Linked DNA regions of Homo sapiens: all the other regions are reported to be linked to region 1. The links are microRNA targets in miRTarBase. Many come from high-throughput screens and were not tested one by one. Region 1 holds a microRNA gene; each other region holds the end of a gene's coding sequence.

Evidence for each region. Region 1 holds the annotated microRNA hsa-miR-548ar-3p (UAAAACUGCAGUUAUUUUUGC, at 1,867-1,887, shown strand). A microRNA usually pairs through its seed, bases 2 to 8, with sites in the 3' UTR of a target mRNA and lowers its output. Matches are read on the target gene's strand: a 7mer-m8 pairs with bases 2 to 8, a 7mer-A1 pairs with bases 2 to 7 and ends in A, and an 8mer does both.
Region 2: miRTarBase lists HMGA2 as a target of hsa-miR-548ar-3p. The part of its 3' UTR that is shown has no 7-base or 8-base seed match.
Region 3: the mRNA of ERP44 is a reported target of hsa-miR-548ar-3p. Seed matches in the 3' UTR shown: 7mer-A1 at 676-682, 7mer-A1 at 1,790-1,796 and 7mer-m8 at 3,782-3,788.
Region 4: the mRNA of RAB33B is a reported target of hsa-miR-548ar-3p. Seed matches in the 3' UTR shown: 7mer-A1 at 1,517-1,523.
Region 5: the mRNA of ZC3HAV1L is a reported target of hsa-miR-548ar-3p. Seed matches in the 3' UTR shown: 7mer-m8 at 3,361-3,367.
Region 6: miRTarBase lists ST6GAL2 as a target of hsa-miR-548ar-3p. Seed matches in the 3' UTR shown: 7mer-A1 at 1,859-1,865.

The regions. Positions count from the first base shown.
Region 1 is chr13:114,242,675-114,246,674 of GRCh38, forward strand. MIR548AR (microRNA 548ar) reads left to right here and starts at 1,831; the gene lies at 1,831-1,887. It overlaps CDC16 (cell division cycle 16), which reads left to right. Exons shown (of 18, transcript NM_001078645.3): 7 at 583-674; 8 at 1,182-1,315; 9 at 2,216-2,295; 10 at 3,326-3,375.
Region 2 is chr12:65,963,086-65,967,085 of GRCh38, reverse strand. It overlaps HMGA2 (high mobility group AT-hook 2), which reads right to left. Exons shown (of 5, transcript NM_003483.6): 5 at 795-3,841. The coding sequence ends at 3,794. Among named protein-coding and RNA genes, the nearest start is that of HMGA2-AS2, 16 kb to the right of the region's middle.
Region 3 is chr9:99,979,031-99,983,030 of GRCh38, reverse strand. ERP44 (endoplasmic reticulum protein 44) reads left to right here. Exons shown (of 12, transcript NM_015051.3): 12 at 318-3,846. The coding sequence ends at 419. Among named protein-coding and RNA genes, the nearest start is that of STX17, 74 kb to the right of the region's middle.
Region 4 is chr4:139,472,756-139,476,960 of GRCh38, reverse strand. It overlaps RAB33B (RAB33B, member RAS oncogene family), which reads right to left. Exons shown (of 2, transcript NM_031296.3): 2 at 352-4,205. The coding sequence ends at 3,835. Among named protein-coding and RNA genes, the nearest start is that of RAB33B, 21 kb to the right of the region's middle.
Region 5 is chr7:139,022,780-139,026,779 of GRCh38, forward strand. It overlaps ZC3HAV1L (ZC3HAV1 like), which reads right to left. Exons shown (of 5, transcript NM_080660.4): 4 at 3,929-4,000; 5 at 2,927-3,781. The coding sequence ends at 3,765. Among named protein-coding and RNA genes, the nearest start is that of ZC3HAV1L, 11 kb to the right of the region's middle.
Region 6 is chr2:106,803,146-106,807,350 of GRCh38, forward strand. It overlaps ST6GAL2 (ST6 beta-galactoside alpha-2,6-sialyltransferase 2), which reads right to left. Exons shown (of 6, transcript NM_001142351.2): 6 at 1-3,804. The coding sequence ends at 3,533. Among named protein-coding and RNA genes, the nearest start is that of ST6GAL2, 81 kb to the right of the region's middle.

The sequences.
Region 1 (4,000 bases):
GAGAATCAGTCCAAGTATGTTGGCAGTGGTGTGAGGTGCGTCAACAAGGGAAACAGAAAATAGAGTGGTTGGATTAATGGGATTCTAACATATTTTAGCCTAGTGCAGTGGTTCTCAACCAACCAGAGTGATTTTGCCGCCCCCTGCCCCGGGAACAGTTGGCAATGTCTGGAGATGTTGTTTGTCACAGCTTAGGGGCAGGGAGGGAGGTTGAGAGGTTGCTGCTGGTATCTAGTGGTTAGTGGCCAGAGGTCCTGCTTAGCACCTGCAGTACACAGGCTCCCCTGTTCCCAGCAGAGCAAGATCCACGCAGTCAGGAGTGCGGAGGCTGGTGGTTCTTAGGTGACAAGAGCCACCTGGGGACCTGCCTCAGCCCTGAAAGAGTAGCCTCCACCCACCAGATGATTCCCGTCTTCAGGCCTGGAGCCACTGTGTCAGCTTCTGTTGCACATTTTGATCTTATGTTCTCTTTTGAGTTTGATTTACTTAGACCAAGAACTGTAGAATCATATTTTTAGTTGTTGGCTTTTTCCCCTCTATAAATATTATGAGGATATTCTTTTTTTTCTCACCATTTTTAAGAAAAAGAACTTCTTGAATCACTACCCCTTAGCAAGCTGTGTAATGAAGAACAGGAATTGCTGCGTTTTCTATTTGAGAACAAATTGAAAAAAGTAAGTAAAACCAAAGAGTTAGCACTTGCTTTATGTAAATATCTTATTCCATAAAATTTGGCATCTAGTCTTATATTAAGTTTTCAAAATTAAAACTTTTTAAATTTAGCACATTTTTAAGAATAGAGCGTTTAAGATACATAAGATTCCAAAAAAAAAAAGCTTTCAAAAATACCTTTTTCCTCTGAAAGACTCCTTATACTAAAAGATTGAATTACCAAGTAAATGTAAATGGAATGGTGTTGCATGGAAATGAAGATTTTTTTGTTATGCTTCCTGAATGTTTACTTTGAGAAATACGTCCCGCTGTGGAATTCTGTTCTAAAATTGAGAAGGGAATTAAACTTACTGAGAGGAGTACTTATAAAACCTAAAGTTATAAGTTTTCAGAGGCTCTCACATTTGTTCTTGTAAATGTTTTAACCACTTGGGCCAAACACAAATTGAATCCACATTTTATTTTGTTTTTGCTCATTGAGTTTATGTTTACATTTCTATGTGTTTCAGTATAATAAGCCTAGTGAAACGGTCATCCCTGAATCTGTAGATGGCTTGCAAGAGAATCTGGATGTGGTAGTGTCTTTAGCTGAGAGACATTATTATAACTGTGATTTTAAAATGTGCTACAAGCTTACTTCTGTGTAAGTATATCCATCCATTTTTCTGTAGGAACATGGAGTTCACTCCATCTTACCTAGGTGATTCACGGACGTGCTCTCTGAATAATCTTGAACTAGATGATAATTTAAGTTATCTTTACCAATTGTAGAGCACTGAACAGGGTGCTGTCTTAAAAGAGCAATTTACAGACATGAATTTGTGCATATTTGTAGATTTATTACATTAACTTGGGAGGGATATACATGTTGCTCTTACTGATCTTGATAATTTGCAAGTTTGAAAATTCCATTTTGGCACATTGTTTTGTAAAATTTATTCTCAATTATGAGACTCACACTGTAGATACTAGGTGTTTAATATGCTGCACGCAGTAGCTAAGCCATCTCCCACATGTATCAGTTTTCCAGTGTACCTAATTTAAACTTTAGCTAAATGACATATGCTATTTTTTGTAGATCTTGGTTCGGTTTAAAATCCTTGAAATTACAAAAATTTTAATTGGCAAATACACATAACCTATTTATTAGTTTGGTGCAAAAGTAATTGCAGTTTTTGCTGTTGAACGTAGTGGTAAAACTGCAGTTATTTTTGCACCAACCTAATAGGATTTCCTGTTGGTTTTGATTCTTTTAAATAAGCGGCCTACTTATTTTATGTATTACAATTCTGTTGACTTAAAGTAAATGTATGTGATAATGTTTATTTTTATTCCTTTCAAATAAACCAGAATTTTTTCTTTCATTTGTAACTTAATTATGGCCTTAACTGAATCAACCTGAAGATAATGGAGTGAAGAAAGTGAAGTGTTACAACCCACAGCATCATATGTGATACCATAATGACTGTCTACACATAGCCGATCGTCGTGAGTGCTGTCACCTGCTGGTTTGGGGGTAGTAATGTGTCGCTTTAACTTTCAGAGTAATGGAGAAAGATCCTTTCCATGCAAGTTGTTTACCTGTACATATAGGGACGCTTGTAGAGCTGAATAAAGCCAATGGTAAGACTTTTTTTTAAATTAAAGTAATTCTTAGACATAAAACAAATCTTTTCTGTAACTTGAAATTTTGTCTCTGAAATTCTGGATAGTTGAGATTGCAGGTAACAACATAATGGAACCCTACTATAAAAGTAACAACTGGGGAGGAAATGTTTAGGAAAGTAGCAAATGGCCAATTTTGTTTTCCCATCAGAACAATTAGTTCTTTATCACTGCTTCCTACTACCTTTTCTCAAATATCATTTATGTTTCAAGGTTTGTTAGCTTTAAATTGTTGGGTGTCAGTTCTGCCTCCCCCCCCCTTTTTTTTTTTTGTAAATTCCACTGGAAATCTGATATGGTAAGAGTTGATAACTACTTAGAAATTGGAAAGGAGCAGATTGTTTGCTCATGTTTTCCGTATTTTTAACATTTGACATTTAGTTGTGTTTGGGGATGCATTTGTCCTTAAATTTTTCTAAACTGAATGGTGAGCTCTGTCAGGAAGGAAAACCCTCACCGAATCCCTGCTGCTCAGAGTGTGGTTCGTGGACCAGCAACATCGCATTTGTGGAAGCTGGTTGGAAATGCAGCATCTCCAGCTGCTCTGGTCTACTGAATCCAAGTCTGCATGCAGGAAACATCATCTTGAAATGCCAGGATTTACACATTTCTCAAGATTAAATAGTATCATTGATCTGATAAACTTGAAAGTTTGTTCAGCCAAATTGGTTGTGGGTGATTATGATGGTCCATAATGGGCCCTTGGTGTGACAGGCATGAGCTTCTAAGAGAGGTGAGGTGCTTTGCTGTATCCTCTGCAGTATTCGGGAAGTGCTGTCTTAGGGGGTGTCTGTTCCCACCTTGCCCACAGTGTGTCCTTCATCTAACTCTCCAGTTAGAGAGTTAATTTTTTATCTAGAAGGAAAGACAAGTATGAAATCATTGCTGTAAGAGCAGAATTATATGATTGTGAAGAGTTGTAATGAAATCATGTCTTAAATTACATGTGATACGAACAATTGTTCTTTTTCTGCTTTTTCCTGAACAGAACTTTTCTATCTTTCTCATAAACTGGTGGATTTATATCCTAGTAATCCTGTAAGTAATATAACTTTTAGTCTTAGTTTTTTTTTTTTTACCTGTACTTTAAGAAAATGCTTAACTCGTATTTAGACAATAGCTTAAGTTCAAGCAAATGATGTTTTATTAAAGTGTTGCAACAGAATCTCCTAGTGTTTATTGTACTTACAAAAGCAGCATTAACTTTTCAACCCATGAAGGTATTTTTTAATTATACCAAAGCAAAAAGGTTTTTAAACCCTTTTTTCTGATTATAGAAGTTATACATGCTTATTTTAAAATACTTAGCGTATAGCAATATAAAATACTGACCATGACAGTCACGCCTCCCTTTCCTAAGAAATGTGGATAATTGTTTGGCAGCTTTCTCACATTGCACATGTAAGACAACCTGTTGAATTGTGTACTGATTCCAAACTGTCATGGATCGGAATGGAGAACTAGGAATGGAAAATGGAATCAGGGACTGCGTCTTTAAGGACAAAATCAGGAATCAGGGTGTAAGACTCAGACGACAAGAATTTGCACCCTATCCCAGTGTGAAACCAGAGCAAGAGAAAACCAGCTAAATAGTCAGAACTCGGACAGAGAGCAAGGAAGAGCCAGGGTCAGGCTGGGGGAGATGAGCAGTGCAGGGGAGTCA
Region 2 (4,000 bases), not on the chromosome of region 1:
TACCCTCCCCACGCTCCCATGTGAAATGCTACATTGGTTGAAACTCATTCTCCCTCTCTGATGGTGACCATAAAGGCTTTTTGTGAGAGGGCCTGTGATTTGTCCTTGGTATTGGCAGGGGCTTCAGGATGCAACCACTTTTCAGGACAACTCAGTAAGGTACTCACAGAATATTGGCTGTGAGAATAAGTGAATGAATTTAGGAATGAAATAATACGTTTAACAAATTTCCTGACAGTAGATGTCTTAAAATTGGCAAGCTTTTCCTAGAAACAAATTTCTCCTTCTAAGAAGCTAAATGAAGAAAATTTGAGTAACAACGGTGATAGTAAAAACCGAAAGTTTTAGCTTTTTAAAAATCCTAGATTTATTCATAATTAGCAACTTAAGTGTCAAGTTGACCTTGAACTTGGTAGAATCATTCTGACTCTGCTAGTAGTTTTTAGAGTTAAAAGGCTCCTATCTAGGAGACTCTTCGTGGCTTTCATTTCTTATTCATCAATCTTCCGGATCTCTTTCCAATGTTACTTCAAAGACGACTAGTGCATTAGTTACTTCCCTTACAAACTTTGTAGGTGCTAGCCTGAAGTAAAAATTCTGTAGTTTGGAGCTACAGCTTGTTCTTCATGTTTCTTCTAAGATTGTCTCTGTAGAATTAAATGTCAAAATCTGAAAGGCGAGCTCAGGGCAGTTGATTGAAGGAGTATGATATGTAAAACACACTTTATGTACATGTGTGCCAAGATGTGTGCAAGGGGTGCAACAAAATGACTTGTGAGTGTCTCCCTCCTTGATCTGTTTTGACCAAACTTTATTACTCATTTAATGGAACTGTAACAAAGAGCAGGAATCAAAACACATGGGGATCACAGAGGCTGTTATGTTTATTGTGCAGAACAGACAGTGATAATACACTAGAGAAATATTTTCAACAAGCAAGCGATTCAAAGTACAATCATAGACAGCAATTCTACATAAAGAACAAAGAATAAAGTTAGAAGACACTCAAAGGAACAGGGAGAAAGTCAACTGCAGTTAAACGTCTTGATACTTTTCTCCTGCAAACATACCTAACTTGCAGAAATGGTAGAAAAGTTAAATGTCCAGTCTTATGTAGCTGCGACCAACAACAGCAAAGAACAGTCCTATAAAATTTATCTCCCACAAAAATAAACTATATATATAAAAATTTTATGATGTTCTTACTGTTCCATTGGCCACAAGCTTTTTTTTTCAGTATGAAAAATGAGGTATACTGGGACTTAAGAGGTAGTAGTGTGTTTTGATTGTACAACATACAGGAAATAAAAGTGTAACTTTACCAGAGATGGAAATCACTCGGTGCACCATGTTTGGCCAACATGAGCAATTGCTTCCATTTTATGAGCTGGCCAATGAGGTTTCTAAAAGGCCCATCCAAAGATATGGAATGCGACTTTTATTTTTATGAGCCACTGTTTATTTGCTTATTTAACGCACAGTTAACAGTAATGTTGAGTTTTAATTCTCTCCATAGCTCCTTTGGTGATTCACAACAGTGAGCGATCTGCCAGTCTCAGAGAGGTATGTGGCCTTTGAAACTACCTCCCTGAAGCAGCTGGAAGAGAGATGGTTTTGAGTTTCATTTGGCTTCAGTACTAAAAGCCATACTGACAAAAGCCGTCATGAGAAACTACCTCCTGGCCCAGTTGATAATACCATGTTAAAAAGTCAGCACACTCACTAGGAGAGAAAGGCATAAAAACTCTACATAAGAAGCGTTTAAAATAAATCTGGTTGAGACATATTACAAAAATCACATTTGTGTAAAATACATGAAAATATTTGTCAAGCATTTTCTTATATTCAACTAATCTTAAAAACACATATTTTTGATTGCATTATGCAAAAGCAGGGCTTGTTGCATCTCACCTACAAAGCTTCAAGTTTCTTTGAAGGTTGGCTTTTATTTTATTTATTATTTACTTATTTTGCAAAAGTATGTAAAAACGTGTTCCTTTCTATCAAATGTCTTTTACAAAAATAGTTTTGACTAGGGTTAGCTGCAGTTTGAACTATTTCAAACATTGAAAAAACAAATGAATGCTGCAAGTAACAAGTTCATTCCTTTTGAAGTCTGGAGGTAGGTCTTTGCAAGTCAATTAGTCCATCTCCTTAAAGAATTCATTTGAGGTACAGACTTGGAGGGTAATATTTAAATATTACAGTCAAATCTTGTGTGATGTGTAGTGTGATTGAGGAAAATTATCCTTAAGAACCTAGGAGCGACTTGGTTAAAAAATTTTCAAGTTAATGTAGAAATCTAGCAGAGAAGCTGAAACAAGTATTTTAAAAATTTTTAATTAAAAAAACATAGAAAAATACATAGTCATGCTGAAACACAGTAAGGAGATTGCTTCTTTAACTGTAATTAAGTGTACAAAAAGAACTGCAGATGATTAGAATCACCTACCCAGTAAGTTTTTTTCTTGCATTGCTTGTGTATAGCAGCATGTAATAAGTACTAGACTGTAAATTCGTTGTAACATTCAGAGGTAGTATTGAGTAGTGGGGATATATTGCATCTCTGGCTAAAAGTGCAGTTTGAATGAAGAGATGGTGAACTCAAGCCGAAGAAAAGCACCTTGGTCAACCATCTTATGTCAAAACGTATTACTTGAAGTAACACATATGCTTAATTTGAGGTAAGTGGTATTCAGGTCTTTCATGGAAACTGATACACAATGAAAAGAGAGAGGGAGAGGAAGAGAGAGAGAGAAAGACACAGAGAGAGATTGCCCCCCCCTTTTTTTTTTTTGCTTTTTAAATTGATGTATAACTATAGCAAAAGAAATTTAGATTTCGCTCCTCCCACCTCATAATTAGGTGAGTTCATCATGCATTATTCTGTTGTACCTTTTCATTAAATTACAAAGAGGATAATTTTACTTGTCTAGTTTCCTTAAATGCTCTGAGGCTGACAAGTGTTATTTATTGCTAAATGGCATTTTGGCTCTGTAGGAAGTAGATTTCCTGAAAATGAAGTGTTGTCCTGAAAACAAGTGCTGTGAGTAAATTTATTACTCCTGCTGATATGTGTGATATCCATAAATAGAAGAGTTGGCAATATTTGTTTGCTTACTTCCCTTTTTGAAAAATGAACATAACCTTTTCTAGTTTGTTAGCTGAATGAAAGGATACATCAGCATTTCGTCTCATTTAGAAATAAAAAGTTAAAAATCATCAAGTAAGTGTCTACAAGATTATACGAAAAAGAGAAAGTAGTATCTAGTCCTTATCTTTGGTGTTCTAAACAGAGGATTCACTACAGGGAGTGGGTTGGGGTGGTATTTGAGGTGTACACAGTGTTACACACCGCGTTCTTCCTATATGAATGCCCGACGTCACAAGTGTGACACGTTTCTTGTTTGCATGCAGTGCAGTGATTGACTAAACCCAATTCGGTTTTTCTCACCCGCCCACTCTTGCTTATCAGATCAACAAACTATTAGTAGGTTAAGAAAAAAGAAAACAGTAATTAAAAGTTGCATTGTTAAGCTGTGTCCCCTGTGTTTACAGCAGTTTTTCACTAAACCTGGGACTGTGAAGGGATTACAAAGAAGGTGATTAATATAGTCCTTTTTAAGGTTATGTGATTTCTCCCCACCCCACCCCCCCCTCCCCCACCCCACCCCACCCCACCCCAGATGAAAGTGGAAAGACCATGGCAATACAGAATAAGTGGTCACTGCAGTGTCTTCTCCCTTCAAAAGATCCAACTGCTGCTGAGGTAGAAATCGAACGTTGGCGCCCCCTAGTCCTCTTCGGCAGACTCTTGTGAGGATGTCTCTTCAGTTTCCTCCTGGAACACACAAAGGGCACAGCCATGACGCTCAATCGTTATACTGTGTGGGCTGCTCTTGCCAACAGTGCAGAGGTAACCTGTTTCCACAGCACATTATGCTTGCCTCAAAAGAGGATGACGATGACTGGCGAGCCCTCATTCCCAGGGCTTCTTAAA
Region 3 (4,000 bases), not on the chromosome of region 1:
CTGTCTCTGTCGACTAGTCTAGGAAAGCACCCAGGTGTCAGGTATTTTGGTCCCTTCCACCACACCTCAGCAAATGTAAAACAAGCCCACAGTTAATGGCCCTGTGGCAACCCTGCCCTGGAGAATCTCAATAAGAGCATTTGAAATGAGGAAAGCAAGATTTCACATTTAAATATCTTGCTTTGGCACACAGTTGCTTTTATTGATTAATAAGCAAATAATTATAGGGGAACTACTATTCATCGAATACACTTATTAAAATATTATAGCACCATAAACTATATTGGTATAAAAATGTTTTATTCTTTCTTTTGTAGCAAGCCCAAGATGTAGCAAGCAGTCCACCTGAGAGCTCCTTCCAGAAACTAGCACCCAGTGAATATAGGTATACTCTATTGAGGGATCGAGATGAGCTTTAAAAACTTGAAAAACAGTTTGTAAGCCTTTCAACAGCAGCATCAACCTACGTGGTGGAAATAGTAAACCTATATTTTCATAATTCTATGTGTATTTTTATTTTGAATAAACAGAAAGAAATTTTGGGTTTTTAATTTTTTTCTCCCCGACTCAAAATGCATTGTCATTTAATATAGTAGCCTCTTAAAAAAAAAAAACCTGCTAGGATTTAAAAATAAAAATCAGAGGCCTATCTCCACTTTAAATCTGTCCTGTAAAAGTTTTATAAATCAAATGAAAGGTGACATTGCCAGAAACTTACCATTAACTTGCACTACTAGGGTAGGGAGGACTTAGGGATGTTTCCTGTGTCGTATGTGCTTTTCTTTCTTTCATATGATCAATTCTGTTGGTATTTTCAGTATCTCATTTCTCAAAGCTAAAGAGATATACATTCTGGATACTTGGGAGGGGAATAAATTAAAGTTTTCACACTGTGTACTGTGTTTTACTGATTGGTTGGATATTGCTTATGAAAATTCCATAGTGGTATTTTTTTGGATTCTTAATGTGTAACTTAAACATACTTTGAAGTGGAGGAGAGTCATAAGACAGAACATTTGGCAGGAATTGTCCTTATGAAACAAGAAAAAGAAAATGAAAAGTATTATTAAGCTTCTGTGTTTGTCTAAAAATGTGGCATATGGATGGCATTTAAAACTTTGAATGAATTATACCTAAATCTGGGACAGGGAGGTGACAGTGGAACAGGCTACCAATCAGAACTAGATGACTTTTAAGGCTCCTCCTATTATGAGACTTCAATTTCCAAAGAGAAGAACTAGCAGAGAAATTGTATTTCAGTAATTTTAAGCTCCTTCTGTCTTGTAGAGTCTTGTTATAGTTGTATAAATCAAAAACACAGAATAAGGAACATATTTAACTTTTTTTCATTATAAAATGGTTAGAGGACCCTACCCCCTCTAGATTCCCTGATTTCCCCAGGCCTGCAGCATACAGTAAGATGGGTCCCTGTGCCAGGCCTCAATACTGCCAGGGAATAAAACCAGAGGGAGAGGACCCTCAGTGTCATATCAGGAAGCCCAGTGCCAGAGGACAGACAGGTTCAAAACTGGCTTTTCCTCTGGGCCTGGGTTGGTGCTATAGGCCAAGGGTCATTTTATACTTGGGTATAAATCAATCCCAGTTTGGGAAAAGATTATTTTTAAGCTTAAAAGGCTGACATGTGCCATTATATGTAGTATGTAATATATGTAACATCTTCCAATTCTTTTAAAATAAAATTAATATTTATAATGGATATTTAATGATTGTTATTTTTAAAAACCAGCTTATAATTCCTCGTTATGCATGATTTATCCAAAGTTTCCATAGTTTTATTCAAAATAATAAATGTTAATAAGGTGATAAGGGGTATATTTAATGTATTGTATCAAATTGTGAATAAGAAAGTAGGATGGAGCTTTCTAGAGGTTGGGCCTTAGTTCTGTTATCCTCATTGCTTTTAACCAATAAGTTAAATGAAGTTAGAGTTATGGTCTTCAGGTTAGATTATGGACCAGATCTGTGAGGGTCAGCATGGAAATTCACATTCAACAAGGTAGCACACAGGACCAAGAGCAGCACATGCAATCAACTGGAATAATATAGTAATCCTGTAACTGGGTTTGAAAAAATAATCAACAAAAGATACAATTCAAGGGTTAGGTTGCAGAGAGCTGGCTTGAGAGTAGTTATTATGAAAAAGGCCTCAAGGAGTACGTGTTCAGTATGCTCTAAGATGATAAAGTGGCTGTTAAAAAGGGAGTTGATTTGAGGAAGTATTACTTAGCATTCATGCATATTGGGCTTAGGCTCTAGCCCTGCCACTATCATTGTCTTCTCTGGACTGTGAAGTCACTGAGGACAAGGAAACTAAATTTAATGTCTGTATCACTAGTGCCTAGAATTTCTGGACACTTAGTAGTCACCATCAGGCGTTTATTTAATGAATGAGAAGCAAAGTGACCTTGGTTACTTTTTTACCCTGAGGGGCTCAGCACTCATTAGGACTTGGTGCCTAATTTTATAAAAAGTCACTAAGCTCAAGTGCTTGGATGAAAGGACAGCGTGGATAAAAAGGTTTTTAAAACATGGATGTTAAGGCTGTTTTGCTTGGAGAAGACTTGGGACTGGGACAGTCTTTAGATATTATTTGAAATGCTGGCACTGTCTATCTGGATCCCAGGGCTTGAACTAGGATTTGAGGAAGTCACAGGGAAGCAGATTTCAGTCTGACATTTATTCAGTGCAAGTTTTTTGGTGCTGTAGTATATGATGAAAGATGTAAAGCTGAATAAAGCATTATTTCTGCCCTAGAGTTGTTCACAGCCTAGTCAGGCATATGGATATGTAAACAATGACTGTAACGTGTTATAGATGTAAAGACAAAATAAAGGTTAAAGAGGGCATAAAGGAGCACTCAATTGCAGAGATTTGAGGACATTATTTTTATTTTGAGCTTTAAAAAGATGAATAGGTGTTCTCAGGAGGTAGGGATCTGGCTGAGAGGGAATAATCTGAGCAAAGGTATGAAACAGCCTAATGCATTAGAGAAAAAAGTTCTTTTAGTAAGGCATTTGGGGTTGGGGAAGCTAGAAAAAGAAATGGGAGCTGGTCACACAGGGCCTTGTGTGCCAGACTAAGGGGTTTGTAGTATATATTGTAGGCAGAAGAGATCCATCAACAGATTGCAAGCAAGGAAGTATGTTCACTTTAAAGTTTGAGAAAGAATAGTGTGGAAGCACGTCTCAAATTTAGACTTGTTCCCCCTCTGAACCGTGAATCAGACCATTTCAGGTAGAAGTCTTCCCCGGTTTATCTGATCTACTCGGGGCCTCAGGCTTCTCAGCTGGGAAGAGAGGATGCAAGACCAGACTGAAGAACACGGTTGAGTCCCCAGAACCAAAAGGGGGCCTTTCTGCTTCTTAGCCAGCTACCTCTTCGAGTTTTTCAAATTGTGAGGGGGACCATAAAAGGATGGAAACTTTTAGATGACATTCTACAAATTATTTTTTTCTTTAAATTAAAAGAACCTAGCCAATAAGATAGAGAATGGGCATCTAAGGCATCTCAGAGCTCTCTGATGAAGCCAGGTTGTCAAAGATCATTTGCAAAAGAAGGGAAAACTGGCATGACAAAAGCTACAGAGAGGAGAGTGAAATATAGAAGTGTTTGAAATGTTCAAGCTCACAATAAGCTTAAATTTATAGAAAATGCTAAGGTTGTCAAGAAGGCTTTTTTTTTTTTCTTTTTTAAACCTGAGGGCAAAAAGGAATGGATAAAGTAGTGTAATGGATTGACAATCAGGAAGAACAGAATAACTCAGTTTTTTTTCTCCTACAAGGAGATATGGCTGGACCAAAATAAAATGACATGAAACTGCAAAAATGAAAAGTAAAAAAAAAAAAATTGTTGTCACCTTAAATGATTTCAAGGTTGTTAGACCCACACTTCTGTATCCTAGAGAGCTGCTGGAGGTTGCAAATGCTTTCTATTAACAACTGTTGGGAATTTTTGAGAAACCATGGAGAATGTAAGGTGA
Region 4 (4,205 bases), not on the chromosome of region 1:
CCGTGTTCTGACCACATCTCCATTCTATCACATACTCACACTGACCTAGCAGTCATTCCCCCCAAATTCAACTCCACTCTTGAGCCCTGCAGTGCATTCACCTGGGATGACTTTCTTCCCTCTCCTTTACATGGAGAATGCCTCACATTTACCCTGAGATGCTGCATAAATGCTTCCACTCATTGTGAAGCTTTTTGATTATCTACTGCTCCCATATCCAAGTCAAAAGACCACTCCATATTCTGTGCTCATTGTCCTTTGTATATGCTTCTTTGATTACACTGATCACAGTATATTGTAGAATTCCTATTTGTTCATATACTATTTTGTAAGTTCTTCAAGGACAGTGTCTATGTAGCTCCACTAACACAAATAGAGAACACATGACCCATACTTGATAAATGTTTGATAAATCAGGTTATTCCAACAAACCAAGTGCATTCGCCCTTGCCACACAGGCTGTAGCAAACGTGCTCCCAAAATACATGACGAACTTCTTAATATCTGATTAAGAAAGCAGTCCTTCATGAATAATGTCAATTTTGTGTTTGAACACAAGGGTAACTTATACGTAAAATAAACTGACCAGGGGAAGCAGAATCAACATCAGAGGCCCCCACATCCCTAATCCTATGGTGTCTAAATCAGTAACTGCAATCTTATACCTGAGACGTAGTTCGTTCTCTTTTCTCATACTTTCTATAGTTATTCATTCTGTTAAATGCTTTTACGTCTAAATACACATCAACTCCTCTTGCACCATTTGCTTTTTGCACTGAACTATTCTAAAACAAGCTGGATTACTAAAACACACAAATACAAAAGCTGTGTTATCAGCTAATTTTAATACTTTGTTGAGTTTTTTTCCTGAAGTGTTCTTTGACCTCAAATGTATACAAGAAAATAATTGTCCAATGGGTTGGGGGCTTTTTGTTGTTTTCAAAAGTGTATCATATATATAATATTATCTGGAAACCAGGAGGAAAAAAAGATTGTTTTATTTTATACTCTACCCAGTAACCAAACAAAGAAAATAAAACACAATTTCTTTGTGGCTAAGCTGGTTTATTGAACTTCATGGGGGAAATGTAACAGTGACACTATTCCACAACAAAATTACTTAGATTTCATGAGGAAACATGTATTTGCAATATACTTTCAATAATGCATTGTTATTAATAGCGAACTACATTAGATTCTGGGGTAGTTTCCTTTGGTGTTCTCAAATTAAGACTTTTCCAAAACATGTCTGATATTTTAATTATTTATTTTCAATTAAAGGTCATAGTTAAAATAAATTCTACAGATTTTTTAAATGTGTGATTTGTTCTTTAAAAATTAGTAATTAGTTGTTAGATAGCTATCATTTTGGAAGTGATTTTGCAACAGTGAAATGTTTTATAAATATTTTAAGATATTGAAAGCTTTAACCCCATTCAACTGGTATGTTTTTTAAAAATAAAAACATATATATAAAAAATTAAAACAAATTGTTACAAATGAGATACAAATATTTTAAAACTAATAAATATTACAGTTAAAAAATAAGTCCTTTCACAGAACTGTAAAGGATATTACTTAATTCCTTACAAAAAGAAATAAAGTTACTCTTTTTAAAACCATAATAATAGTAATAAAAAACCATAAATGTGCTTGGAAAGTCTATAAACTTTCTTCCCCCACTTTAGAAAATATTTTGAAAAGCGATAAACAGATTCCCTTCTTTAAAAAAATGTTGTTACACCCATCATAGTTACTACAGCTGTCATTGTTTTATTACAAAAATAGTTATAAATCAAGGTTAATTTCGATACAAGTAAAACAATTTTTAAATTCCAGCATGATTAAGAAAACATGATCTCCCTAAATGCAAATAAAGCCAATTTGAGCTCTAATACTTAAAATGGAATAATCACTTCCTATAATTATTATTTTCAGTTAGTTCATTTAATAGAATTACTTTGTCTTTATAGTTAAATTATCCAGGTAGGACCACCATGATGATTAAACAAAAATCTTAAACTAGATTAGATTACATTTTTAATTGATTTCCCATATTCTGAAAATACTGTAGTACAATAATCATTTGGCTTAATTTCCTCCAAAATTATTAAGGACAGCAATCTATCAAAATTAGTGAATGTGAACACTTCAGTTAAAGTCATGGCTTACATTCCATTTACGTAAATAGTTTAATATGTAAGCTTGCTATATTTTATGTGCAAAGACTTAAATTCAAAATAAAAGTATTTAGGTTAAAAAACTTCTTGAAATATTCTTTCCATCACTGAAGTTTAGACATTTTTCAATATCTAATTTATTTTTCATACTGAGGAGGGATAACTTGTGACCATAAAATTTAGACATCTTAAAAATTGATATGACACAATACTATTACAGAAATACATGTAGACTAATAGCAATTAGAGTTGTGCCTTCACACCTACAATCCAAATGGAAGTTGATTTGTTAACTTGGCATTTAGTCATTAAATTTATTGGAGTTGAAGGAAGAGCAAGAGATACCATATGGGATACACTGCTTGAAATTAGTAAAGGCTAAGAATAGGTCTCCTGTGTTAGCTAGAAGCTATGTTTACCTATTTTCCCCCAAGTTACAACTCTTCATGTGCTTTCAGTTAGTTTTTCACTGTTTAAATATACCAAAATAAAATATAAAGCACCTTATGTCACTTTATTTGCCTTAAAATCTGACTTATTTTTGCATATTTTAATAGGATTTAGTAAGAAAGCAACTCGGCTGGGTGCAGTGACTCACACCTGTAATCCCAGCACTTTGGGAAGCTGAGGCGGGTGGATCATGAGGTCAAGAGATCGAGACCATCCTGGCCAACATGGTGAAACCCCATCTATACTAAAAATACAAAAATCAGCTGGGTGTGGTAGTGCACGCCTGTAATCCCAGCTACTCGGGAGGCTGAGGCAGGAGAATCACTTGAACCTGGGAGGCGGAGGTTGCAGTGAGCCGAGATGACGCCACTGCACTCCAGCCTGGAGACAGAGCGAGACTCCATCTCAAAAAAAAAAAAAAAAAAAAAGAAAGAAAGAAACTCAAATAACTCTTTTAAAATAATAATGATTTTTGTAGATCTGATAAGTATTAATTAGAAAATCAAACATCTAGAACTCTTGGAAAAGTCATTCTTTATGGACTGGGAACCAGAAAACATTCTATGCCTTCTTATCCCACTGGAACTAAAGTCTTGGCTCTAAAACATACCAATAATAACAAAACTAAATATGTTAATAAAACAAAGAAAGGCCAGATGCAGTGGTGAGTACCTACAGTCCCAGTACTGGGGAGGCTGAGGTGGGAGGATTGCTTGAGCCCAGGAGCTCAAGGCCAGCCTGGACAACATAGCAAGACCCCGTCTCTATGAAAAAACAAAAAAAGTACTCTGGGGAGAGGCAAATACCAGTTTTTATCCTATTAAGAACACTTCCCATTCAAAGGACATACTATTAGGTGTGTCCTAAACCTTTAACATTTTTTTCCAATCCTAGGACAAAAGATTGAATGGTTACTGATTCCATCATGTTCTCATTTGAAGCTTCCTTCATTGGGCTCTAGATGGAGAGATGTTCAGATTCATCCTATCTTTGCTTCATTTTCAATCTCACCTGAAAACCAACTTTTCCTGTGTTGTCACAGTGACAAACTTAAGTAGATACAAAATACAAAAGCGTGACAATGACAAACAGCAAAGTGTCAAGATGACCCATTATAGTTGAGATTAAATCTTATGACTTAATACTGTCATACTTCAAAAGTATTTCTTTAGTCAAAATTAGATAATATAATAAAGACTGTTATTTAGCACCAGCACGTCATTGCAGGCTTTGGTTCAGGCTTCAGGATAATTCCATTATCAGGGGGCTGACTAAGCATTAATGGTTTGTGGCTCTTAAGCTTATGAGCCAAGGTCATAAATATAGCTTCCACATGGTCATTATCATTGGGGTTTTTAGCAGACGTTTCAAACAAAGGCATACTGTGTGTGTCAGCAAATTTTTGTGCCAAGTCTGTGGGTACCTGTATGGCACTTCTCAAGTCACATTTATTTCCAACAAGAATCCGTGGTATATCATTGGCTAGCAAATGTTGTTTGCATTCTTCTATCCAAGATGGTAGGCTATGAAAACTAGCCATGTTGGTCATATCATACACGAAGACAACAGCATGTA
Region 5 (4,000 bases), not on the chromosome of region 1:
AAGAGTCACCTCTTTTGGAGTCAAGAAAGGCCAACCTGGCGTTTTGAAGAATCCAATTTTGCTAGGTTGTGAGGTAGGAAGAAGGAATGGCACTTATAAAAGAGGGAACATCAGGCTGAGTGCAGTGGCTCACGCCTATAATACTAACACTTTGGGAGGGCGAGGTGGGTGGATCACTTGAGGTGAGGAGTTCAAGACCAGCCTGGCCAACATGGTGAAACCCCATCTCTACTAAAAATACAAAAATTAGCCAGGCATGGTGGTACATGCCTATAATCCCAGCTACTCGGGAGGCTGAGGCAGGAGAATCACTTGAACCTGGGAGACGGAGGTTGCAGTGAGCTGAGATCATGCCACTGTACTCCAGCCTGGGCGACAGAGACTCCATCTCAAAGGAAAAAAGAAAAAAAAAAAAAAAAAAAACAGGGAATATCATTTACAGAGAATCACAAGACAAAATAGCACATTCCAGAAATTCCAAGTAGGTCAAGTACATACAATGTTGGTCTGCATTTTAAAAACTCGACTAAAGTCAATATTCAATCAGAACATTTCTCATAACAATCTGAATTTCTGGCTTCTTTTTAAAAAACTGGGCACTATGACAAAGTGGGCCCACATTCCCACGTGGATACAAGAGGCAGGCGTCCCTTTTAGATGGGACAGTTTGCCACAGCACTTCTCCCTTCTCCCACTGCTCTTGCATCCAGTTCACTTCATCCATTTAACTCACCTTTCTAGTCCCTGCAGGCGTTTTGAGTTTACAAATACCACCCTACATGATGAGGACCAAGGAAGGTTTCAGCAGGAAAAAAGCCATATGATTAGCTTTGTTTTCAAAATGTCAGGCAGCCAGATGGAAGGCAGGAGAAGTGAAGAGTGGTAAGGAGACCAGTGAAATCCACAAACGCTTATTCTATTAAAGATTAAAACAGGGCTACCATCACTGCAGTGGGAACAGGGCACCTTTTACCAAAAACTCCCATAACAGATGACTTGAAAACCACTGAGTTTATGCATCTGTAGGATATATGCAGGAAGATGATGAGGGTTTGAAACAAGGCAGTATGTACAGGGTGGAAAGAAAGGGGCAGAGAAGGATAAATATTTGAAAGGTTTTTGAGGGGAAGAAACTCTCCAACACTGGGTAACCAATTTGACAAAGGGAACAAGGAGAAAAAAAAGTATAGGACAATTTACAGCTTTTTGTCTATGTCATTAGGTAGATAGTGGTGACATTCAAAAATAAGGAAATAAAAGCAGGAACAAGACTAAAGGAAAATTCATAATTCAATTTAGAATACATTGAATTTGTAGAGTCTACAGACATGCGACTTGACATCAAAAACCCCGATAAATTACCAAAGAAAACTCTTTTCCAACTATAATGCGATAACTTTCTAACAGCTTAATCATGAGTGAAAATCAGAGAAAGGCATGGTTATATAAAATATTTTACAGAATGAATACCAACAAAACTAAGATTAAAGTAGACTATTATAGAATTGAATAAAATACTGCAACAAAGATGACAGAGGACCAATAACATCACATATAAAAGCATAATGATAAGATATAAAAACAGAACATAAACAAGTAAAGGTCCAGCAAGTCTCTCAATGTAAAGGAAATGCATTTATACCCTACACTGTTTCCATTAAAGATTTAAGATAGCTTACTACAAAAATATACATAGTAAAATGGTAAGTGTAAATAATAGTAATAATTAAATGTAAAAATTTTTTTAATTATCACCAGGAGAAATCTGGACTAGAAAAAAAGAAACAAAATATGCAGAGCATAAGGGCTTTCAGAAATATCGTTGACAATGAAAGTAAAAAGCTCAACACAAGTGGCATGACTCTTATTATCCATTAGGAGAAAACACAGCCATTTCTCACTTTAAAAAGGACATTTTTGCTTTTTCCCTCAATTGAAAAGATAGCATTTCATGATAAAAATTTCTCTACATTAATTTAGCTTTATGAAAACTTATTACATTGTCTCTGTTTCTCAAATGTTATGTTACTGCAGGACAGTTGAATTTAAAAACAACAACAACACTTTACACAGTGACATTTGAGGATGACTACAATAAACAGAACAAAAAAATTAATTGCATAAAGCTGCTTCTTGTGGTACCCCTTGATGAAAATAAACCACAAAATACTGAAATGTAACTCAATGAACACAGCTGGGTAGGTGGAGAGCAGGGAGGAAGGGAGAAGGGAGAAAGGGGAAAGGGAACATGAAGTGGGTGAGGTATACAGACTTCTGATGGTCCATCCTGAGCCACAGGAAGAATGGATACAATTTAAAGGAGTGGATATACTGCTCATCCTTCAAACTATTGTGACTGGGCTTTGGTAAAAGCTCAGCAAGAAATGAAGAGTAGACAGAGTCTCACACCTGTAATCCCAGCAGTTTGGGAGGCCGAGGCAGGCAGATCACCTGAGGTCAGGAGTTTGAGACCAGCCTGGCCAACATGGTGAAACCCCGTCTCTACTAAAAATACATAATTAACTGGGCGTGGTGGCTCATGCCTGTAACCTCAGCTACTTGGGAGGCTGAGGCAGGAGAACCACTTGAACCCAGGAGGCGGAGGTTATGGTGAGATGAGATCGCGCCATTGCACTCCGGCCTGGGCAACAAGAGTGAAACTCTGTCTCCAAAAAAAAAAAAAAGAGTAGACAGAGTGAGGTAGAAGTCTCTGGAGAGAACCCAAAGGTTATATACTCTGTACTACTGGCTGAGGATGGACCTACAAAAATTGAATATCATCCAAGCACAGTATTGCTGAGGTCCTTTCATGAAAATTTGAGGCCTCGTTAAAGGCTGTCCCACATCAGCATAGATGAGGGCCCCATTAATAAAAGGCCAAATATAAAATGAAAAAATAAGAACAATCAGAAAGCAGACACCAGAAAACTATTCACTCATACATATATTTTTAAAAATGCAAATGACAGTATCCTTTAGCATCTATAAGCTAAGCAAAAGTAAAAAATAGCTGGAAAAATTCAATATTCTGCAGATTTTAAGACAGGAGTTATATTCAAAATTTGTTAAGAGGCTGGGTGCAGTGGCTCATGCCTGTAATCCTAGCACTCTGGGAGGCTGAAGCAGGCAGATCGCTTGAGCCCAGGAGTTCAAGACTAGCCTGGGCAACATGGCAAAATACCCTCTCTACAAAAAAAAAATACAAAAAATTAGCTGGTCGTGGTGCATACCTGTAGTCCCAGCTACTCAGGAGGCTGAGGTGGGATGATCACTTGAGCCCAGGAAGTCAAGGCTGCAGTGAGCCGAGATCACGTCACTGCACTCCAGCCTGGGCAACAGAGCAAGACCATCTCAAAAAAAAAAACTGTTAGAAAAAGCCAAGTAGTTAAACAAACTATGATAATATTAATGTATCTGTGCAAAAACATGATTATGTACGATGTGAACAAATATAGAAAGATGCTTATGAGACAATATTAAGTGAAAAAAAAAAATGAGTGCAAAGTACTCTAGGATTGCCACAATATAAATTGATAGAAAAACAATGGTGGACCACAGAAGTCAGCAGAGCTCCATCTACCCAGCCTGAGGAAAGCACCTAGGAGCTGCAGATAGCAGCTGCCATCTTCAGCACTTGCCCTGGACTAGCCCCATCTGCACTCAATTTTAGCCTCTCTTTGCCTGTTCAATGTCCCACCCCATCCCCAACCACCCATGCCCAAATGTATTCTTCCAAAAGGACATTTTCTCCTTTTCCATCTTCTTTACTTCTCGCAAGACACTGTGAGGTAGATATTATTATGACCATTACAAATCTATCATTAAATGAATGAATGGTTACAAATTAAAGCTAAACAGAAGGCTTGTTTTCAGATCTTCCAAGCTGGACAAGCTTCTTCTTAGTTCACTGACCCCCTTTAAGGTTTACCTGGGCAGGGCTTCTTGGCCGACTGAGCAGGGACAGAAGCCAGAGGACCAGCTTCTGCAGCTCCAGCTGCGT
Region 6 (4,205 bases), not on the chromosome of region 1:
TGAAAACGCTAATGATTATTTTAGCATTTCTTTTTTTGCAGATGCTATGGCTACAATGACTGAGGACTACTGGAGAGTCCAGGATTGATTAAGTGTCTGGCTGAGAGACCAAGAGGACCAGACACATGGGAAGTGCTGTTTCTCGAAGCTCTGCCTTCAGGCAGACAAGGAAAGACCTGGTCGTTCAAAGATGTATAAAAGCCCTCCCTTGCCCATCCAAGCCTGATGCTTACATGCAACTTTTAATTGACCATCCCTTGGTCCTGAGCACAAAGTTCTCTGTAAGAGCAGCTCTATAAGGACATAGTGAGAAAGGTCAGCTCCCTGGGACGAGCATCGGTATTCCATGAGAACACCAGGTCTGTTAAAGGTTACCCGTCTGCCTGGTGTGACTGGCTGGAGAAATAAGGTAGGGAGAATCTAGATATGGTTGAATTGTCATTGCTGCTCAAAATTTGTTTCTTTGTAACAACAACAACAACAACAACAACAACAACAACAACAACAACAACAGGTGAAATTATCTTGAAATACAAAAGAACGTCTGTTGGTCCTGAGAGTGAAAAAAGGAATCCTTAACAGCTTCAGCTTGCACCAAGAGGATTTTTTTTTATCAGCTTCCCTTCATAAGAGAGGATGGAGGATTTTGGAAGAGACAGAACCTGGGAGAAATTCAGTGAGCTGCCACTTACTGTTAACTACTCCACAGAAGAACTATATGTTTATTGGAATTCAGTAAATGTGGCATGTAAGGATTTAGTCAATGTCTGGCAAAATGCTGCCACTTAGGACCCATTTGGCTAATACTAGAAGTAGTCATCAAGTTAACTGTAACTGCCCAACATTTTCTTAGAAGCCAAAGAACTTAAACTTTTATAGAAGAACGCCCAGTCAGTACTATATTAATGTGTGTATTACATTTATTGACTGTTGAACAGAGCCTGATTCCCAAGAGTCTTTAAGGCCATAATAAATGCAAAAATTGTAACTAAATTTCCTTTGTACTCTTCAGTCTTTCTTGTAACCTCAATGAAACTGAAAGTACTATTTTAAAAGTACAATGACTACGACAAAATTCCATTTAAAAATCTTTAAAGTGTTGGGTTCTGAGGCTTTTGAACTTGAATATTTACACTGACCCCAATAAATTCTCCTCTAACCAAGTTCTCATGTCAGCCAAGGGGGATTATGCTGGATAGTAAGGATGTCTACAAGTAAATCCACTTGCAAAACTATAAAAGGAGCTTCAGGGGCATTTAATGGTCTGGAAGATCTAGAAAGATCCAAGGAGGGTAGGGAGTAATATTCATCCACCACAGCCACCTCACCCACATTCCAGAGTTGCTGAAATTATTACACACATGTAAACATAAGGACAAGACAAAGTTTTTTCAAGAAATTAGAAAGGAATGACCGGGCGCGGTGGTGGCTCACGCCTATAATCCCATCACTTTGGGAGGCCGAGGCAGGCAGATCACAAGGTCAGGAGATCGAGACCACCCTGGCTAACACGGTGAAACCCTGTCTCTACTAAAAATACAAAAAATTAGCTGGGCGTGGTGGCGGGTGCCTGTAGTCCCCAGCTACTCAGGAGGCTGAGGCAGGAGAATGGTGTGAACGTGGGAGGCAGAGCTGGCAGTGAACCAAGATCGCACCACTGCACTCTAGCCTGGGCGACAGAGCGAGAGACTGTCTCAAAAAAAAAAAAAAAAAAGAAAAGAAAAGAAATTAGAAAGGAACATGGCTTAACCATGTCTATTTAGACATAAGTTAATATATAGGACAAAGTTACCTATCCCTTCTCATTGACTTAATAACAAAACTCTCAAAATGGGCTTTTATTGGATATTATTGTGATTAAAACTTTCCAATTTCTCCTTCACTATTATAGCAAGCTATAGGAGATGTCTTGTTTTCCAGCTCCATATCTGCTGAATAGACTAACCAAACAGAAGCCTTCAGTCTCTGTAAGCCATTCTTGCTCAAGAAAGTAGTCCTGAGAACAGTCTAGAAGAAACCAATCCTGAAACAAAGAAAACTTTTCCACTAAACTCTCCTGACATTCATACATTTTGCAAGGGAGAACGCATTTAATTAAGCTGCTATTGTCATTGCAACAAGTCTTAACTGTACCATGGAGATATGTTTTGGTTATACATTGAAATAATAGCATGTTTAATTAAGGTATTACAGAATGTTTCTGTTTCACTATATTCATAGCAAAAATTTTTCAATGTATCAGTGACAGTTGAGATTAAAGAAAAAATCAACCCTGAATATAGCTAACATATTGGGATGAAAATTTCCCTCTAGCTGCCTTTCCCTCTGAAGCATCTACATATTTTCCTTGTTAATAAGCAATGCTTTCACATAAATTATTTAATTATATGGCTTTGTCATGCTGCTGACATAAAACATATCTGCAAAAGCAAGGACTGGATTCCTAAATGTCTGTAGGAAGATTTAGTGAAGATTCAGTGCTCATCACTGTGGAGTTCCCACTGGCTGATAAAAACCTGCAAGAAACCTGTATAATAAAGACAGGCGTGCATCCCTAGAAGCACAGGGTGATGGCTCCAAAATCTTTCCTTCTAGTTTGGAAGGAGCAAGGTGTCTCCCGTCTTCCCCAGCACAGCTGTGCCAATTGTCAAGTGTGTCACTGACTATGCAAAAGCTGCAGGGTAGATCTGCAGGTGAGGAGGTACAAGGCAGAAAAGCCAGAACCGGGGAGTGTCCAGGGGCACCTGCAGCCCTGTGATTCTATGTTACTTGCCAGTGATGTGCCTCCTGGTGGATGTGATACTAATGTTCCTGGTTGAAATACTGCAGGGAAACAAAGGGCCTCCTCTGTGGTGCTATATGGAATTTGGCTTTTTCTTGGACCTTTCAAGATGGATGTTTTCTGGTTTTAGAACTCTGTCTTGATGCACAGAAAGCAAAGCATTCAGTGGGCAATGGGAGGCAGAGATGAAGAATGCAACGGTTGGAAATAAAAGCCTTTGCCAGGATGTGCTGGGAATTTTTTGCTGTTAAACACATCTGAGTGATAATTTCAATGTCTGTCATAAAACCTAGGATATTTAATGATGAATGCATGTATAACTGACACACTCGATGCTGTAAATGATGTCCCTCAATTTGAATGTTTCTAAACATAAACCACTTCATATGGTCAGGAACATCACCAAAACCTGTCATTGAAACCAACCCTGATGAGGGGTACTCATGGCAGAAGAATAAGTTGTTAACATTTCTGGAGGTATCATACCCATGGTCATACATGTGTTTTCTTTCTAGCTATCCTTGGTTTTGCATCTTTCTTGAGCCTTATTTTTTTAAAAAAACCATTTCTATGTTCAAAGCAGTAATACATACTCAATGGCTTAGAAAGAGAAGGATTATCATGACCACCACTAAATTACTGTTTAAAGACTCAAAACTACACTGTCTAAAATCTATCTTCAAGTATTCTTTTGTGACTTTGAGTACAACAGTAGTACCTTATTGCACATTGATTCCCAAGAAACCCTTTTTAAGAGTGTGGAATGACTGGACTTGGTGCAGGGCAGTGCACCGCCTGGAAGCCGGGAAGAACCACCTTGCCCTTGCGATGCAAATCCCCCTGCGTGCCCATGTTCAGGCGCTGCACCAGGAGCTTCTCATAGAGTAGTGGGTGGTACGCCCCGAGGGTGCAGGCTGCGTCGTAGTACAGCTCGTGGTAGTGGCACAGCTCCGTCTGCCGCACGGATGGGATATATTCATACACGTGCACCTCTCTGCACATGGACATCATTATGAGGATTCCTGACATGAAAACCAAAAATTAGAACCTAATGAACAACTCCATGTGAGAGGGATGAGTTTTTTGGGGGAGGGGTGGTGGTGATGGGATATGACTGTGGCAAGAGACACTTACTTTTTTGTTGTTGTTGCATTTGCAATGTTATAACTTCCATTAAGTGGTGTGTATGCAGTTCATGGAGTATGGGGGCATATTAAAATGTAACACTATATATATATATATCTATTCGCTCATTTAATTTATCACTGTGGGCCTGGTAAGGAGAGATGAAAAGAAGTCAGTGAACTTGAGGGAACCACACGCTAGTGAAGGACAGATTTGCAACCCCCCAAATCAGAGTTTCCTGTATCACATTCTATACACATGTCCCATCTGGTTTGCAATGATGGGACAGTTATGTTCC